Linked DNA regions of Homo sapiens: region 1 is linked to region 2. The links come from fine-mapping of genetic effects on gene expression. A gene starts in region 2. The other region holds a variant in brackets. All regions are shown on one strand. Distances are between the middles of the regions.

Region 1 (4,390 bases), 24 kb before region 2:
TCAGAAGTTTCTTCTTCTTGCTCTGAGCTTGCCTTGTATTTTGTGTTTTGTCATCTTATGAAAGATGAGCTACCAACCAAAGTCCACCTACATTATTTCATGGCAGTTCTGGTGTCAGGGACAGGCTACGTTCTTCTGTCTGACCCATTAGTGGGAAGATTTGGTTTTGTGGCATCATGATTATGCTGGGACAAGGAAAGGGTACACTCAAACAGACACTAGTCAGATTTAACACATGATGGATGAAAGGAGCCACTTGTAAAGTCAGCTCAATCAAAGGACCGTCTGTCCATAGCGATACTGCAAGGGGCTAAGGTATTCTTTCCCCAAGAGTCTGGTGTGAGGGGAGGCTGGGCTGCAGCATGCAGGTGGCAGCATTTCACTCCGCTGCAATGAAACTGGCAGGTGAGGCCTGCTAGGGTGCCAGCAAAGGATCCCCCACAGGCCTCAGACAGGACTGGGGGCCTGAGAGTCCTAGAGACAAAAGGTCACAACTCCAGTCCATCTTCTACCTCTGTTCTGATTCTGGGATCACAGGCAGCCTTCAGAGCTGTCACTGCATCTCCTGGTGGAAGGAACAAGAGGAAGGACATGGAAGGGGAGAATGAAGTGTGTGCTGAAGAAAGAGCAAGCAGGAGGAAAGGGCTGGATGGGAGTGGGGAGCAGCGTGTAGAAAGCTGACAAAGGTGGGCTGCGCTCAAGGCCCCCAAGCACAAACGCAGCCCACGAGGCTCTCCAACCCCAAGCCCCTGTCTACCTTCCAGCCTCAGCACCCAACACAGCCATTGTTTCATGTAAAAATGAAACTAGTGGCTAGTTTCACTTGCCATTCAAGGGATCCCACATGTGCTTTTCCTTGCTTTTCCTTGAGTCAGGTGCTATACTTTGGTTTGCCGCAGAAGTACTTTATGAGCATTTCTATTTTGTTACACAGAATATTAAAGAGATCCGTACTCAGGGTTGGAATTCAATAAAACTGACAATTTTTGCTACTTCATCAAAGACATTCTTGTGTGAAAATGGCATTAAAAAAAAGCTGGGTGTGATGGCTCATGCCTGTAATCCCAGCACTTTGCGAGGCTGAGGTGGGCAGACCACCTGAGTTCAGGAGTTCGAGCCCAGCCTGGCCAACATGGCAAAACTCTGTCTCTATTAAAAATACAAAAATTAGCTGGTTGTGGTGGCAGGTGTCTCTAATCTCAGTTACTCAGGAGACTGAAGCAGGAGAATCACTTGAACCCGGGAGGCGGAGGTTGCAGTGAGCCGAGGTCATGCTGTTGTAGTCCAGCCTGGGTGACAAAGTGAGACTCTATCTCAAAATAAAAACAAAAACAAAAACCTGGGAGTACATAGCAGTGGAGAATATAGTGGCTACTGGCACAGTTCAGCATCACCACCTTGACCAAGGCACCAACAGTCTTACTCATTGTTGCTTTCCAGCAACAGACAGCATCTTAGTACGATTACAAAAATCATTTTAACTGTGCAGATTCCTAAAGGAGTTTTGGGGACCCCCATGGTCTGCAGTGTATGCTGCGAACCACTGGCCTAGGTGATGGGGAGGGACTGGGTGTGACTGGAGCTGTGCCTGGGGGCCACGGAACTGACTGTGATGTGAAGAACAAACTGGAGGCTAGAGCAAGAGGGCTGAAAGAGGCTGCTGGAACAGCCCGGGGCAGGGTGAGAAAGGCCTACAACAGAGACAGGGAGAGCAGGGAGAGCAAGGAAGAGGAGGTGAGGTGTGTAACAGAGTGAGGGAATGAAGTCATCGAGGCAGAACTGGTTCTAGTCCTACCAAATGACTGAAGAAGGTGGGGGCAAAGACCACAGCCCTCCTTGAAGGAAGGGACAGTGTTTAATTCCTCTGTATCCCCACTGCCTAGCATGCAGCCAGGAAGAGGAGGGCCTCATATACTTATGATTACATGTTTATTAACCAAAGTCAGGTCACCATAACAACAGTAGGACCATCAAACAGGGGGAAAATTCAGGAAGTGGAGCTGGCTGGGGACGGGGAGCAGGGAAAGACAATGGCACCACCGGGGACCTTCAGATGAAGAAGGGTGACACACAGCCACCAGGGACTATGAAAACTCACCGATCAGGCTAAAACCACTCTCACTCAGCCCTCATCTGACCCAAATCTGCAAATGAGGCATTATTCATAATCTCCCAGGCATGACAAAACCTCTGGTGACAGTGTAACACAGAACACTTCAAAATGTCATCATATATATCATATATACGTTAAAAAAAACCTGAAAAGA[C/T]ACATCTCAAATTATTATTATGTTTTGAGCTACGGTCTCGCTCTGTCATCCAGGCTGGAGTGCAGTGGCACAATCTCGGCTCACTGCAGCCTCCGCCTCCCGGGTTCAAGCAATCCTCTTGCCTCAGCCTCCCAAGTAGCTGGCACTACAGGCGTGTACCACCATGCTTGGCCAGTTTTTAAATTCTTTGTAGAGACAGTCTTGCTATGTTGCCCAGGCTGGCCAAATTATTAGCAATGGTTATTTGGGGAGGGACAGTGTCTAATTCCTCTCTATCCCCGCTGCCTAGTATGGAGCCAGGCAAAGAGGGGCTTCATATACTTCTGCTGTATTTTATCTTGTTTTGTTATGAAGTAGTTGTTTTAATTTCATAATTAAATAGATCTGGCCAGGCGCAGTGGCTCATGCCTGTAATCCCAGCACTTTGAGAGGCCAAGGCAGGCAGATCACTTGAGGTCAGGAGTTTGAGGCCAGCCTGGCTAACATGATGAAACCCGTCTCTACTAAAAACAAAAATTAGCTGGGTGTGGTGGTGCACGCCTGTAATCCCAGCTACTCAGGAAGCTGAGGCAGGAGAATCGCTTGAACCTGGGAGGCAGAGGTTGCCGTGAGCGGAGATTGCACCACTGCACTCCAGCCTGGGCGACAGAGGGAGACTCTATCTGAAAAAAAAAAAAAAAAAAAAGTAAATAAATATGTTTTAGTTACATGTTTTCCTTATGACCCTTCCATGTCATTCTGTAGAAATGTGTTCCTCCTACTAAGCGTTATCTGAGTCGTACCAGGGCAGCTCCGCTATTCCTAGCTAACTAACTAAGTGCTGAAAACCACGGTCTCTTACCCGCCCTTTCCTCTGGATGTATCAGATCATTTCAATTTGAAGTAATCTAAAAGGATAACTAAAATGTACACCCAATCTTACCTATAGGTTTTTCCAACTTTTGAGAAGATACCATCTGTAAACTTGAAATCCCAAATGAAATAAAGCTCCTGTCAGGAAGTTGGTGTCTTCCAGCTACACGAAGTGTCTCAATGGCCTTTGTGCGTAGGTGGCAATCTTCAGTTCTCCATCGGCCTCTGACATGGAAACCTTGAAAAAGCAGAAATAGAAAGGAAATCAAAATGCTGACTTCTTTAAAAGGACCAGAAAAGAGAAAGATCAATCTGAACGTGCCCCAAACCTATGAGTTACCCCACTAAGTAGATATACACGCAGCAATCACAGGTTTCCCATCTTTAAAATCAGACATTTGAATTAAATTTTTTGTAGAGATAGAGTCTTGTTATGTTGCCCAGGCTGGCCAAATTATTAGCAATGATTATTTGGGAAGGGGTGGCTTCTAATTCCTCTCTATCCCCACTGCCATTAAGCACTGGAAGATTTAACAAAGGTCTGAGTGAAATTTTTCAGATTCTGTTTCCATTATGGGATTCCAGACCCAAAAAGATGTAACTGGACCTGGATGATAGAGATAAGACACCTCTGCTCTGAGGAGTCTCAGGCAAAAGATAAAAGTTGACAGGCCAGGTGTGGTGGCTCATGCCTGTAATCTCAGCACTTTGGGAGGCTGAGGCAGGTGGATTGACTGAGCTCAGAAGTTCAAGACCAGCCTGGGCAACATGGTGAAACCCATCCCTACAAAAATACTAAAATTAGCCAGGCATGGTGGCACACACCTGTAGCTGCTTGGGAGGCTGAGGTGGGAGGATTGCTTGAGCCCAGGAGGTCGAGGCTGCAATGACCCAAGATCATGCCACTGCACTCCAACCTGGGTGACAGAGCGAGGCACTCCTCTGCTATCCACGTTTTTAGAGAAATGAGCTGGGCTCTCTCTCTTAGTGGCCAAGTCCAAGTCTCACAGGCAAGAGGAAACAGAGCCCGAAAGATAAAGTAGATGCTGAGAGCAGGAGGTGGCATGAATGGGAACAAGGTTTTGTGTCGAATACATAATTATTGCTAGTTTTCAATCTGATGACTTCATTTTCTCTATGTTCACTGTTATTTTAATACCATGGCTCTAGCTATACAAGTCAAAGTTGCTTTGTCAACTTCCCTATGAAATAAATATGCATTTCCCCTTTTCTCGGTGGAAAAGCCCTGAAAATGCAGTTTAACTCTGAAT
Region 2 (4,390 bases):
TCAACTGTGAGTGTGTGAGCTACTGGGAAATGCAGACCCATGTACCTACCAAAACTAGAATTTAGCCACCCACTAAGCACACTGCCCCTGCCCCTAGACTGAGCACTAAGGCTGAGTATAAGCTAAGAATTGCATTCTGGTTCCTGGCTGACCTCTGACCTGGGCTCTGGCAAGTGTGAGCCCTGACTCTAGCCTTTAGCCCTACCCTGAGGCTTGCTTATGGCCAAAGCCTGGGCTTGACCTCTGACGCTGGAGCACTGTCCTTTCTCACATCTCTGGTAACCCTGGGACAGGATTGGGGAAGGGAGGGTGGGAACCAGGTGACACCTGGGTAAAAGCAAAGGGATGGCACATATTTCGGGGAGGGGTATTACTTCTGGCAAGAAGTCAAACTAGCTGGGGAGCTGTTTGAGACAAAGGTCCTTCCTTGAACCCACAAAGGCAGGCCAGGATGGGGGCAGTCTGGTAAAATGAGAGCAGCTTGGAGAGTAGAAACAGGCCATTCAGCAGGAACTTGTTCTCTTGAAAAAAACTCACAGATGTGAAAGGTCATCTCATCCATCCCGACTCTTCGACTTCTCACCCAAAGAAGTCCCCAGGGTGGGACCCCAGTTTCCAGAGCAAAGAGATTTCTGCGCTTCATTTGCCATCTCCATTTTAAACTCTGCTTGGGGCAAGTGCTTCCAAAATCCCTCACACTGCAATTAGGCGGGGCTCCTGGGCTCCCCACATTGCATGGCCCCCTTTATGACAGTTAGAAATAGGCCCCCACCCTGGCATTCAGCACCTTGTCCTACCTTTCCTGCCCCACTTCCCACCTCCCCACACCAACCACCCTGGGCTTCTTCCTGATTCCTGAACACGCCCCCACTCTTTTGCCTCTGCATGTTTTCTTATCCCTCCACCTGCCTGACCACACATCCTCAGATTGGCTGCTACCTCCTCCCACAGCCTCCTCTCCTGAACTCAGATCTCCTTCTCCTTGGGTAGAGGCTGCTTTTGGTCATTGCAGTCTCCACTCCATCCCCAACCCACCCCCAGCTTAGGACAAGGCCTGGCACAAAGTCAGTGTTCAGGCTTTAAGGAAAGCTTAGACTAGAATCTTAGAGTTAAAATAGCCCTGATAGATCAGCTGGCCCAACTCACTTGTACAGATGGGGAAACTGAGGCCCAGATGAGGAAACTGAGGCCTAAAAAGAGGACTTGAGGAGCCTGTGTCCACATAGCAAGTTACAAGCAGAACTGGGAACTGGGATAAGGTGGGGCTCAGCTCATGACCAAGAGTAAAAGACCATTTTCCTGCACTGGCTCATCAATGGTCTGGTGGAGACAGAGAAGAGGAGGGGAGTGGAGGGACAGTGGAAGCATCTTCTCCACCAAACAGCCCAACCTGCTTCCTGTCCCCAACACACTGACTCCGCACAGCAACTGGGGTGTCCTGACCAGTGAGCTAGAGTTCCACCTTACTCCTGTGGAACTTCAAGGCCTGGGTCTCTTTCCAGGAAAATGTAAGCTCAGGGGGTGGGTGCAGGGCAGGTGCTCTTCTAGCCACAGGGTTAACTCCCTTCACTCCCCACCCCCATGCCCTCACTGAGTTTCTATCTGTCACAGAACCTCTGTCTCTCCCTGAACCACTGCCGTTCCCCGTCCTAGCCCCCATTTCCCAGTGATGGCTATCCTTTCACTCCTGGAGTGGCAGTGCCTTGCTCGTTCCCTGGGTGCGGATCTGGGCTTCTCAAATGAAGACAGCAGGCTGACCCTACCTGTTTCTGATATTTAGCCCCCTGCTAGGCTACATCTACCACTCCTTGGGCCTGGCCCAGGATCTGGGCCAGAGGATGGCCCCAGTTTGAACCCAGAATCCATCCTGGGACTCTCTCTAGGACAGAGGTCGAAGAGAAAAAGTAGAGGCGAAGACTCCACGCTCTCCTCGCGGCGCGCAGCCACCCACGCCCACCCCCGGCTTCCCTGCAACCTCAAACCAGCTCCCAGGGCCAGGAAGGTCGTAGGACCCAGAGGAGCCCGCCTGACATTTCCGCTCCCCGAAAACACGCCCCCCAACCCCTCCCCTCTGCCCCGTACTCCCCCACCCCGACAATCCCCCCCGCAACTTTCGAAGCTCTGAGCCTCGGACGCCAGCCTCAGGACAGCGGCCAGCCTGCCTTCGGGCGGGACTCTCCTCCGGACTGTGCCACGCCAGGACGGCCGAAGAAATGAAAGTGGAAGCCAGGCGGGCGGGGTGCGCGGCGAGGCCGCAGGGGCACGGCGCACACTCACGGGTCCTCTTCTGGCCGTGGGGTCACATTCCCAGCCACAGGATCGCCTTTCTCCTGCAGGTCCCGCAGTGCCTGTTCTCTCTCCTGTCAGCCTGTCCGTCTGCCTGTCCTGCCGGCCGCGGCTGCCCTCCTGCCCCGGGCGACGCCAGCTCCGCCCCGGCCCCGCCACGCCGCGGCCACGGGGCGGGGAGGGGCGGAGAAAGGGGACTCCCCTCCACTCCAGTACACAGACGCACTCGCCCCCACCTTCCCGGAAAGTCCATATGGGGCTCCCAGCTTCCCCTTGGACAAAGGACTAACTGAGCTGCCCGCCCTCTCGGTGCTTCCTTGGACCTCCACCAAGGAGGCAGCCTCAAGTTCCCAGACAGTAAAATGGGAAAACGCTCGGCTTCTTCTGGAGCAGAAACAAGAGCTGCTAGATAAGGGTGGTTTCTTTGCCCTCCTAGAATCGTCTGCGTCACACTTGTCCCGGGACCCAATAAGGGATCGGGACCGTCCTATCCACTCCCATATCCTCAGCTCCTGGCACATAGCAGGAACTCAAAACCCACTTGATGAATGAATGAATGGGTGAGTGAAGGAATAAATGAACGCCTTGGGAATCATGAGCTGAGTCCTTCACCCCTGAGGGACAAGCCCCAGAAGAGCGCTCAAATCACAAACTTCATCTCCTCACCAGGGAGGGGGCCTGGCTCAGGTTGGGCTGATTCTCCTTGCTCCTTACCCAGAGTCACCCCATTTCTTATCTCCAGACCCTTATCCCAGCTGTTCCATTTTAGAATACCTTCTCTCCCTCCTTCCTTCTGACAAATCCAAACCACTCAAGATCTGATCTGCTCTCCCTACCACCTGGGTTCCTTCGAGGACAGACAGATATCCCACCAGCATTCAATGCACACCGTGGCCCCCAGGCCCAGGGACCAGTTGGCTGCTCTGTCTGGGATGGGAGGGAAGATTGGAGGCTTTCTAGGGTAGGAAGCCCAAAGCAGAGAGCTTAGCCATAGAAGCCACTCTGGAGGGGTGGGAGGTGAGTAGATGCGGGTAGGGGAGAGCTGGAGGCCAGAGGTGGGCATTTACCATGGCACACTGGACCTCCCTTGTGTCTGGACCTTCTGTTGCTGGATGACATGAGAACACGCTAGATCCTTAACCCAGATCATATCCTTTGCAGCAACATGGGCTGGAGCTGGAGGCCATTATCCTAAGCAGACTAACACAGGAATAGAAAACCAAATACTGCATATTCTCACTTACAAGTAGGAGCTAAACAATGAGAATACATAGATACTAGGAGGGGAACAGCAGACACTGGGGCCTGCTTGGGAGTGGAGGGCGGGAGGAGGGAGGATGAGACAAAAATACCCATCAGGTACTATGCTGCTTACCTCGGTGATGAAATTATCTGTACACCAAATCCCCATGACACAGAGTTTACTTATATAACAAACCTACACATGTACCCTTGAACCTAAAATAAAAGTAAAGAAAGAATCCCAGCTCATAGAACTGTGGGTATGTTCTTTTGTTGAGCACCAATTTTTGCCCCAGTCTAAAGTTCTCTGTATTTTTATGTCTGACTCTTAACTCTCTGCCCTGAATCCCCTATAAACAAACACTTGCTTATGGAGCAAATTAAACTATGCTTCTTTATTTATTTGATATCCTAATCAATATCTTTTATTGAGTATAACTCTCCACTCATATCAGATCAGGGGACTGGGTGATAAAGCTGACCTGGTTGCCGACCTCAGGTGCTGACAGGTCAGTAAAGGGGACAACACACAGAGATACACAAGGTCACAGCTCAGTCACCCAGAAGTGAGAATGTGGTTGTGGACTGACGGACTTTGTAAGAGTCGGGGTATTTGCAGGAAGCACATGGAACACCCAGAATGGGTATGTTTAATGAAGACATTATTTACAGGTATGGTCAAGGTGTAGGGAAACCACACAGTGTATCACCAAAGGGCTCACAAGAGCAGAGGCTGTCAACCCCAGGCTGCAGGAGTGTGGGGAAGGAATGGTGAAAGTGGGAGCTATGAGGAGGGCGCTGCTGTGGCCTAAGGTGGAGGGGCATACCCAGCTCACAGCAATCATACAGGGAAGGACAGGGG

Direction of the effects. Positions count from the first base shown, and alleles are read on the strand shown. Sizes are in standard deviations (SD) of each study's normalised expression.
For the expression in whole blood of the gene that starts at base 2,378 in region 2, allele T in region 1 goes with a higher level than allele C (small effect, 0.24 SD a copy in GTEx).

The links. PIP is the estimated chance that this variant, and not a neighbour inherited with it, causes the effect.
Region 1: its variant is the best candidate, but not a certain one, in a credible set for the expression of MOB3C in whole blood (GTEx, PIP 0.57).

The regions. Positions count from the first base shown.
Region 1 is chr1:46,590,924-46,595,313 of GRCh38, forward strand. MKNK1 (MAPK interacting serine/threonine kinase 1) reads right to left here. Exons shown (of 13, transcript NM_001135553.4): 2 at 3,190-3,357. Among named protein-coding and RNA genes, the nearest start is that of MKNK1, 11 kb to the right of the region's middle. The variant C/T (reference allele first, on the strand shown) is at 2,268.
Region 2 is chr1:46,614,434-46,618,823 of GRCh38, forward strand. MOB3C (MOB kinase activator 3C) reads right to left here and starts at 2,378. Exons shown (of 4, transcript NM_201403.3): 1 at 2,278-2,378. RefSeq lists an enhancer at 1,803-1,872 and a silencer at 2,273-2,552.